Linked DNA regions of Homo sapiens. The protein of the gene in region 2 interacts with the protein of the main gene of each other region in a pairwise test. Each region holds a gene or a part of one and is shown on either strand. Other genes may lie near its edges.

Region 1 (4,009 bases), on a different chromosome or scaffold from region 2:
CGCACCAATCAGCGCCCTATCAAAACAGACCACTGGGCTCTACCAATCAGCAGGATGTATTGTGGTTTCATCTGGAGGGATAGACATGACCAAGATCAGCTATGGATGCTCTCCTAGGAGGCTGGCCTCTCTGGGCAACATGTCCAAAGCCTGATGGGCATTGCCAGCATTCCCCAAGCTAACTTTAAAACCCAAATATGCAACTTACCTTTTGGTCTTAGGACCTAACCCTAATGCTTTCCTTTGTTGCCATGTTTTATTCCTGCTGTTACATGGTGGAGGGTGTGGGAGGCTTGGGTGGAAAGCTATAGCAGCCTGGGGGGATGGTGGTAGTGGTGGTTTCCAGGGCACAGGCTCTATGCGCTCTGTCATCGGAGCTGGACACAGAGGGTGGGACTGCTGCCCAGGACACACACCTGGGCTGACCACTTGTGCTGTGGTGCTCCTTGTTTAACCTGCCTCTTATCTTTGAGCCATTTGGCTTTTGAATCCTTCACTATGCTTAAGCCAACAAGTTGGCAAGTGATATCTGTCTCCTAATCAGCTCTACCTCCTCCACCCACTAACTAGCAAATGTTGGGTCAGGGGTAACAAAGTAAAAAGAGGTTTAGCTCTCCAGAGGCGTTTGCCCATGTACAAGTATGTTCTGGTAGAGGTTGGGCAGGTTTAGGCACTAACGGGTGCCAAAAGGCTCCTGGGCAGGAAGAACTGGAAAACAAACTTGTTCTTTCTCCCTTCCTCTCCCTCCTCCTCTAGCTTGCCTCAACAACAGCCAGATATGAGAAAGAAGAGACGGACAATTTATTCCACATCACTCAAGCTCAATCAAGGCAGGGAGAAAGCAGAGGAGTGCAAAATCCTCCCTTTCTCATTCCTTGCAATGATGAGGACCAACCTATTCAAGGGCTGGGGGAGGATGAGGAGATGGGGTCAGATGAATGGACAGAACTTGGTGCCAGGAGTTCAGAAAAGATTACACATGTGTATCCTTCTGCTCAGGATCCAGGACTCCCTCCTGGGTGATGGGGGTGTCTGTGATCGTCTGTGCCCTTGGAGATTCTTCTACTGAGCCGAAACTGCTGCTGCAGGACACGGCACCACTGGGGTGGCTCAGAATCAGACTCCAGAAACTTTTATGGTTGAAGTAGCAAAGGATCGCTGGGAAAGGACAGGGACAGGGGAGAGGAAAGTTGTGACTGGGAGGTTAAGTGACAAGTAGGGTGAGACCAAAGGGAAGATAAGACCCTAAAAATCTAGCCCTGGGGATTGCCAGCCTCTTCCCTCCACACTTTCCCTGCCCTACCCTACCCATGTCGCTTCCTTCCCCCAGGGCCCTCTGGCCACTCACCGCAGGTGAAGTATAGGATAAGCACCAGCCAACCAATGAAATAGCTCCAGCCTATGGGGATGGATACATTCCTTTCCAACTCGAAGATCCAGATGTTAATGGGGAATAGCATGAGGGTGGAGAAGATGAAGGTGACTAGGAGACAGGAGGCAGAGGGTCTCATTGTCATACAAGAGTCCCACAGGAGGTTCTTCCTCATCTGCTAGGCTACAGCCACAAACCACATCACCACACACAGAGTGACTGGCCCTGAGGTTCCAGGAGTCAACCCCTGCATTTCTACCTCTCCTGTGACCAAGAAATGATGTAACTCGATTCTCGGTTCTGTTCTCCCACCACCCACAAAACCCTCATACCACCCCCAAAGAAGAGGGAGAAGTGCCCAGGAAGATGGGGGTTAGGAAAACAAAGGACCTTTCCAGAGCTAGGAGGCACCTTCACAGAAGCTCAAGATGGTCCCGAAGCCCACAAAGGGCAATTTTTGAACAGCGGGCAGGTAGGGCAGGTGCAACCAGATGGTGAGGACGAGGCCCAGCCCCAGGGTCAGGTTGAAGCTTAACTTAGCCACCTTAAACATGGGCTGATTGTCCACAGCTTAAAACTGCCTGGGGAAAATGACAAACAAACAAGATCAACTAAGGATTTACAAAAGATGAAACATAATCAAATGAGCAAATACAAGAAAATGTACCGCCAGGCGCGGTGACTCACGCCTGTAATCCTAGCACGTTGGGAGGCCGAGGCAGGTGGATCACAAGGTCAGGAGTTCAAGACCAGCCTGGCCAACATAGCGAAACCCCGTCTCTACTAAAAATACAAAAATTAGCTGGGCATGGTGGTGCATGCCTGTAGTCTCAGCTACTCCGGAGGCTGAGGCAGGAGAATCGCTTGAACCTGGGAAGCGGAGGTTGTGGTGAGCCACTGCACTCCAGCCTGGGCAACAGAGCGAGACGCCGCCTGCAAAAAACAAAAAACAAAAAAGACAGAAAGAAAATGTACAGACCCATTAATAATCAGAGAAATGCACATTTGAAATAAAAATGAAATATTGCTTTCACTTCTTAAACAATCCGAGATCCTTGATATGGATATTGTTTGATAACCTCAACCACATGCAAATGAATACCTCAACAGAAAAAATGTACAGAGGACTTAAACTGCAATTCTCCAAAGAAGGAGTACAAATGTCTGATAAACATATAAAGCTCAACACAAAGAATTGCTAATTAAATGTGATTTGTGAAAAACCATCGAGGCTGAGCATGGTGGCTCGCACCTGTAATCCCACCACTTTGGGAAGCTGAGGTGGGAGGATCTCTTGAGCCTGAGGGTTTGAGAGCAGCCTGGACAACATAGGGAGGCCCTGTCTCTTTAAAAATATACAATTGGTGTCGGGTGCAGTGGCTCACCCCTGTAATCCTAGCACTTTGGGAGGCCGAGGTGGGCAGGTCACTTGAGATCAGGAGTTCGAGACCAGCCTGGGCAACATGGTGAAACCCCATCGCTACTAAAAATATAAAAATTAGCTGGGCATGGTGGCATGCGCCTGTAATCCCAGCTGCTGGGAAGCTGAGACAAGAGAATCGCTTGATCCCAGGAAGCTGAGGTTGCAGTCTATATATATATAGACACACACACACACACACACACACACACACACACTTGGCTGGGTGCGGTGGCTCACACCTGTAATCCCAGCACTTTGGGAGGCCGAGGTGGGCAGATCACGAGGTCAGGAGATCGAGACCATCCTGACCAACATGGTGAAACCCCATCTCTACATACATATATATAAACTGTCAAATTAGCAAAGATCAAAATAAGATTGATAACACCTAGTATAGGAGAGTATGTAGAGAAAAGAGGTCCTCTCATACGCTCCTGGTGGGCAGCATTTGTGGTGAATGATCTGGTACAAAAGATCCAGAAAATCTACATTCTTTGACCCTACAATGCTTCTTCTTGGAATTTATGTTAAGGAATAATCAGAGATCTGCAGCAAAATCTCAGTACAGGAATCTTCTTTGCAGAGATATTAATATGTCGGCTGGGTGTGCTGGCTCACGCCTATAATCCCAGTACTTTGAGAGGCTGAGGTGGGCGGATCACTTGAGGTCAGGAGTTTGAAACCAGCCTGGCCAACATGGTAAAAACCCCGTCTCTACTAAAAATACAAAAATTAGCCAGGTGTAGTGGCACCTGTCTGTAGTCTCAGCTACTGGGGAAACTGAGGTGGAAGGATCACTTGAGCCCAGGAAGCAGGGGTTGCACTGAGCCGAGATCATGCCACTGCACACCAACCTGGGCAACAGAGCAAGACTCCATCTCAAAAAAAAAAAAAAATGTCCAATAAGCTCCTTGATTTAGAAGAGATTTGTAAAATAAATTATACTATCCCCATACATTGTGTTATTGTGTGTTCATTTAAAATGGTGATAGGTGATAGACTGGGCACAATGGCTCACACCGGTAATCCCAACACTTTGGGAGGTGGAGGCAGGAGAATCACTTGAGCCCAGGAGTTGGAGACCAGCCTGGGCAACAGAGGGAGACCCTGGTCTCTACAAATTAAAAAAAAAAAAGTAGCCAGGCATGGTGGCATCTGTGGTGCCAGCTACTTGGGAGCTTCAAGGTGGGAGGATCACTTGGGCCCAGCAGTTT
Region 2 (6,459 bases):
TGGAGGACTCAAGTCAGAACCCTGTGGTGAACCAGAGGAAAGACTGTAAGCATTTGGGAAATCACCTGTGTTTTTAAGGTGGAGATAAAATGTGAGACGGTCCCTGAAGGACAGGTTAAAGTTTAGAGATGAAGTTGGAGGAGTGAGGCAGACATGAGGTCAACCAGAGCAGAGGCATGGGTGAGAGAAAGCAAAGTGAATATCTGAGGAAGAGCCAGTTTCCTTATTTCTCTGAAGACAAAGTTTTTGGAAGGAATTGGGATAGCCCCTGAGGGATGCATGAAAACCTTAGAGATAGATTTGGTGGAGAGATGCCATTTGGGGTAGAGGGACTGAAAAGGCCCAAGGCTTGGATGACATGAAAGCAAAGGGCATATTCCAAGAGAGTGAAGAGTCCAACTTCACTGGGGCATAACGTTCACAAAGTAGGAATAGAACCTGATAACCCTTGGATAATAAGGTTGGGCTCCCTTATAGATTTCTCCAGAGATTCTACTTTCTTTGAACGAAAGGTGAGTCCTTAAGATTTTCTGAGTTGTCTGTTTGGAAACAAGTACCAAAATAATCAGATTTAAAAAAAAAAATCAAGCTCCTAATTTTTTTTGAAAAAAAAATGTAATTTGATTTTACTTTTATAAACTTTAAGAAGGCATTTCCACACTTTACAACACTCTCGTCATGTTTCAGGGTTTTTATTTCTTTCTTCGGCAGCATTTTCGGCCACGCGTCGAGCACTTGCCGATCTGTTCCTCCTTTGGAAGGCAGCTGAGCACAGCACACCGGCCGCCTCTGACTCTGCAATAATATTTCTGTAATGTGTTTATGATTCCTCCATGACCTGCAATGACAAAACAGCACACACGGAAAGGTTTTAGGAAGGCTTTTGGTACACGTACAAGGCTTGTGGAATTCCTCAAATAACTCATCCCTTGCTTTTCTTGTATTCTTTTGTTTCTTTTTCCTTTTTCTATAAAATCAGGAGGAAGATGAAGGTATGACTACACAACCCATAGACAATGTTTCTAAGGCTGCAGCTCAGCTGTGGACCCACAGTGGCACCGGGGAAGTGGCGTGACCCTGTGACTGCCGCAGGAACAGTGGGGGTGCTGAGGCTGTGGTGTCCTCAGAGGTAGCCCCAACACTCCACCTCCAACCATTGCACTTAGTAGAACAGGAGCCTGTGCTTCTATTCTCAGAGTAAATCAATCTTTCCTGCTACATTAAACTTTTATGTCTGATTCATGTCTCATCAGCTGGTATAATAATCTTCCCTTGAAGAGTTGGGGAAAGAGATAGCTTTGGGGAGCTATTTAGTTTCTTAATGATTCTTTTCTTTTTTTTTTTTTTTGAGGTGTACTCTCACCCTGTCACCCAGTCTGGAGGACAGTGGCGTGATCTCGGCTTACTGCAACCTCCGCCTGCCAGGTTTAAGCAATTCTCTGCCTCAGCCTCCCGAGTAGCTGGGATTACAGGTGCCCGCCACTGTGCCCAGATAATTTTTGTATTTTTAGTAGAGATGGGGTTTCACCATCTTGGCCAGGCTGGTCTTGAACTCCTGACCTCGTGATCCGCCCACCTCGGCCTCCCAAAGTGTTGAGATTACAGGCATGAGCCACCGCACCTGGCCTCTTAATGATTCTTGTCTGAAAAAAAAGTGGTGATGCCTAGTTCCCATACAACAAACCTGCTTGGTCCAAAGCACTCTGAAGGATGGAGAAATACTGACTCTGAATTATATATTCTCAATTAGATCAATCCTTAGATTTCCCAGCCCATCTTACCTGGAACAGGCACCAAAAACAGGAAGAGCAAAGCAAACAGAAGATAATGGATCCTCATAGCTGCTAGGCTTCACCCCACGCTGAGACTGGATGAAAAGGTGTGCTTGGTCACTTTATAAAGGTTCCAGCCACAGCTGCAATTCTTGTCATATTACAGTGATGACATTATGACATGTTTTCTGATGCATCATTCCAATGCCTCTCACCATGCAGAACACACCCACTCACTCAGTTAATTAGGAACCCAATGGTAAGGCAGAGCTCCCTATGGATTTGTGGCTGTCCGGGTGCTCTCTGGACTCCAGGGGCTTGTCTGGGTGTGGGTCAGATTGGGTTGTGGGTACAGATAGGGCTGGCATGAGCAAGTATGCCCCCTTTGGGGAATAGTCTCAGGGCATGTGGCTGGGGGCTGACTTGTCCGTACTTTGCTGCTTTGGAGCTTTTTTTCTCTTCCTAAAATGCTGGGAGAGTCTAAGACCCTCCTGGGGACCAAATAAATCCAGCCCTGGACATATTCAATATCTGGCAATAGGACTGGCTTTTTGGTAGTGAGGTAAGGGAGGAAAATGGGCTACATTCAAGGTTAGCTGACCACCTGGCCCTTGGCCTATGATGGGGTGCTATAATTTGAGTGAAACATGTCTCATTCTTTCATTTTTTTTTTTTTTTTTTGAGAGACAGAGTCTCACTTTTTTGTGCAGGCTGGAGTGCAGTGGCATGATTACAGCTCACAACAGCTTGAGCTGTCAGGCTCAAGAGGTCCTCCCACTTCAGCCCCCTGAGTAGCTGGGACCACAAACGCATACCTCCACACATGGCTAAATTTTAAATTTTCTGTAGAAAATAAAATGGGGTCTCACTATGCTGCCCAGACTGGTTTCGAGCCCAGATGTGAACTCCTGGGCTCAAGCAATCCTCCTGCTTCAGCCTCCTAAATTGCTGGGATTACTGGTATGAGCCACTGTGTGCGGCCCATGTCCGATTCTTCATCATTGTCTAAAACCTACCAAATTTATGAGTAAAGAAGGTGTTTAATTTTACTTCATCAGAGAAAGAGGATGCTGGGATGATAGATTTAATAGACTGGCATCTCCTCCTAGTCAATGACTGTCCCTGTGCAAAAGAGGGGCTTCAGAATAGACATTTAAGACCTCAAGTTACTCTTGGCTCAGGAGCATTCAAGGCAGTCCAGGGGCCAGATGATTTCCCCTGCATATAGATTCAACGTTTAGAGGGAAAAATGCTAAAAAAGAAAAAAAAAACAGCTATTAAACTTAAATGTTCAGGAATCCAATGGATGGGTTGTATTTGGTTGACTATCAATTGGGAACTAAGTAAGTCAATGACAATTCAATTGGGAGCTGAAGTCACCGTGATGTCTCCTAGCTGCTGCTTCGTGTGAATGCAATTATAACGGATCCACTAAGGATCAAGGGTGTGTTAGTTCTGGGAGTGTGTGTTCAGAATTTGGGTGCACCACACCTGTCAGATTCAGTAAGAAAACTCTGAACACATACTATAGGAAGGGACAAGTATCATGTCTTCAGCATAGGTGAGGGTGAAGTGGATGAGATACCAAGAGGGACCAGTCTTGGTTCTTTCTCTCCAGAAGCTCCATGTAGGGCCAGGTAGATGGGCAGACAGTCAAATGATAAATTTAGGATGAATTATAATGGGAGTCATAGGAAGATTTCAAGCACAGGGCTGCAGAAACGTAGAAGAAAGATAACTCATCATAACTCAAAGATAACTCTTTGAGCCAAGAGTGGAGCTCAATCAGCAGATTTAAGACTTTAGATAGGTAGATGCTACTTTTTAAAATCTAACTTTCCTCTTTAGTTCATGATTTGAGACAAAGCAATTGGAGATATTTATAAATGGGGGAAGGAGGTGAGTGTGGGTGGGATGGGTGCTGACTTCACAGTCTTACTATGTCAGACATAACGATGGCATTGGGCGTTGTAGAGGGTTAGCACCAGCTCTCAGCCTGGGGTGAGGACAGTCAGACGCTGGAGATGACTTGCTTTTCCACATGGAGAATAGACTTCCACAGGTGAACCCCTGGTCTAACCTGTTCCTTCATAGACTGGGAGGCATTTTTATGGCAACACCACTATTTCATAAAAGTTCCTTGGTGAGGAAAAATGCCACTTTTTCTTGTCAACTAGTTTGGGAGCTGGGAATTGGAGATTGGGCTGTGACAATCAGCCTTTTCAAGTTTGGACATACTCCAGACACACAAAATCCGTTTTGAGGGGGACTTACCTGTTTTAAGAAAATTATAAAAGTAATGCATTTTTATGGTAAAATTTCAAACAATAGAAGAGAGAGACTGTGTAATTTACTTCTCTACTTCAGGGAGCCACTGACAACTGTGAATTGTCCTCTTTTTGGCTTATTATAATCCTTTTTATGTCTTCAATACTTTTAGCCTCTCAAATGATAACAAGTACACGTGTGCTGTCTAATAGTTGGGTGAATAGATTCATGTGTCTGAAGCCATACAACACTAACGACAGCTGGGTCTTGTCACTCCCTGCCCCTGGGCTCTGAGTCACAGCGCTTGGAACTGCAGATCCTGCAAATTTTTGTACCCATGTGCTTGGTTTCCTTGTAGCTCTCACAGCCAGCATTTTGACATTTTGATTAGGTTGAGCAAGGAAGAGAAACTTTAGTTATTTATCACCTTTGTTCATGTCAGACTTTCCTTTAATTATTATTTTTTAAATCCTGTTCTTAAAATGTGGAGCTGAGATGTGATTGGTCCAAGTTTGTGGCAGAAGGGCAGAGCTATGTAGAAGACAAACACCAGGTCTGAAGTGAGGCGTCATTGGGCCATCACTCAGCCCTACCGTGTATGGCGTGGGTTTACCTGAATAAATTACCTAAGCTCTGTGAGCATCTGTAACTCAGCAACAAAGCACAGAGAGCAGTACATTTCCTGTTTAGGTCACAGTGAAAGCCCTATGAGTTAATGGTGTGAAATTGACTTGTACATTGCAAATCACCATGTGACCCATGTATCACCCAAGTATCACCCACGTGACCCTCGGTTAACAATATCAAGACTCTGGCATGGGCTCCCAGCACGGGAATCCAGGGTGTCAACTCCTCTTCATCTTGACATAGTCTAAGATGAAGGTTGGCTCAGCCATTCTCCTTTGCAGCCATTAATCTTGTCACAACCACCATTATATAAGTTATACAAATAAAGGCAGACATTTTTCCAATTTTATAGATGAAGACACTGAGGCTCAGAGAGGTTGAATGACATGCTGTAGTGAATTGCAGCATTGTGACCTGAAGCCAGCATGTCCAGTCATTTCTCTGCCTGCTCTCAGAGTCATCCCTTGACTATTGGTGATCTACACTCATGTGTAGTGGTCTATACTTAGGTGTGTACCCTTTTCCATCACCCCATTGTCCCTAAATTCTTTGCATCCTAGCATCTCAAGAAATCTGTCCAAACTACTCTTCCTAAGTCCAGCCAAGCCTTTTACATCCCCAGCTCAATGAGTTTTTTGTCTGTAATCTTCCTACCTGACCGTTTTGCAACATGTGCCTCGTAAGGCCACTTTCAGAAACCTATTCCTCAATTTCAATTCAACGTCCAGAGAACTTCATGGACATCTGCTCTGTATTAGGGTCTTAGGACCTGGTGCTGTGCAGGAAAGAAAGATAAACAATATTTACTCTCTAGGCTCTGAATTTTCACTATTTCCCAGTCTAATGGAAAAAGATACAAGCTGACAGTAACACGATATAACAGACATCCGCTTTCCATTGTCTCCTCCTATCCTTCCCATTACTGCCTTTGATTCATCATGGAAGTTTTCCTCCTTCTCCTGTCCCTGAAGTCCCCAAAAGGGAACATCTTCAAGAATTTAACATTTTCATGGCAATCATAATGATGATGATGATAATGATCCTCCTCCTTATCATCATTGTCACGTCATTGTAACAGATCTATTGAGCACATATTATGTTCTAGACACTGTGCTAAGCAATTTACTTGCATTTATTTCATTTGAATCATGCAGTAATTTAATAATGTTGATACACTTATCTGCATTTCCCAAATGGGGAAAGGCCAGTTGATGCTCCCATGCTCCTAACTGTATTCCAGATGCTTACTCGTGGGCCTCTGCTGGCTTCATATGATCTTTGGGATGTGGTTATCTATGCCTGCATGCAGCTACCTTCCATCTTCATCTCTAGTCTGGACCATTTCCCCAATGTTCTCAACCAATCTTTACATCACTTTTTCTGTAAATATCAACTTCATTCTCCAAATTGCTTGGTGATAGATGTTGGAAACTAGGTTCTTTCTGACTCTTCTTTCTTTTTTTGGAGGGGGGGACAGAATCTCACCCTGTCTCCCAGGCTGGAGTGAAGTGGCACAATCTTGGGTCACTGCAACTTTCACCTCCCGGGTTCAAGCGATTCTCCCACCTCAGCCTCCCAAATAGCTGAGACTATAAGTTTGCACCACCATGCCCAGCTAATTTTTGTATTTTTAGTAGAGACAGGGTTTCACCACTTTGGCCAGGCTGGTCTTGAACTCCTGATCTCCAGGGACCTGCCCTCCTCGCGCTCCCAAAGTGCTGGGTTTACAGCCATCAGCCAATTCTTTCTACAAAGTGGTTTGCATAATTTTCAGGGACCAACTCAAATACCA

What was found.
Region 1: the proteins of DEFB103B (region 2) and ODF4 interact in binary tests that used the Homo sapiens proteins (3 or more experiments, as listed by UniProt).

Annotation. Positions count from the first base shown.
Region 1 is NC_000017.11:8,342,817-8,346,825, reverse strand, and holds the end of ODF4 (outer dense fiber protein 4), read right to left. Parts: intron 1,484-4,009; coding exon 1,349-1,483; intron 1,159-1,348; coding exon 974-1,158; 3' UTR 780-973; downstream 1-779. UniProt on the Homo sapiens protein: Component of the outer dense fibers (ODF) of spermatozoa which could be involved in sperm tail structure, sperm movement and general organization of cellular cytoskeleton.
Region 2 is NC_000008.11:7,428,292-7,434,750, forward strand, and holds DEFB103B (beta-defensin 103 precursor), read right to left. Parts: upstream 2,058-6,459; 5' UTR 1,840-2,057; coding exon 1,782-1,839; intron 839-1,781; coding exon 693-838; 3' UTR 597-692; downstream 1-596. UniProt on the Homo sapiens protein: Exhibits antimicrobial activity against Gram-positive bacteria S.aureus and S.pyogenes, Gram-negative bacteria P.aeruginosa and E.coli and the yeast C.albicans. Kills multiresistant S.aureus and vancomycin-resistant E.faecium.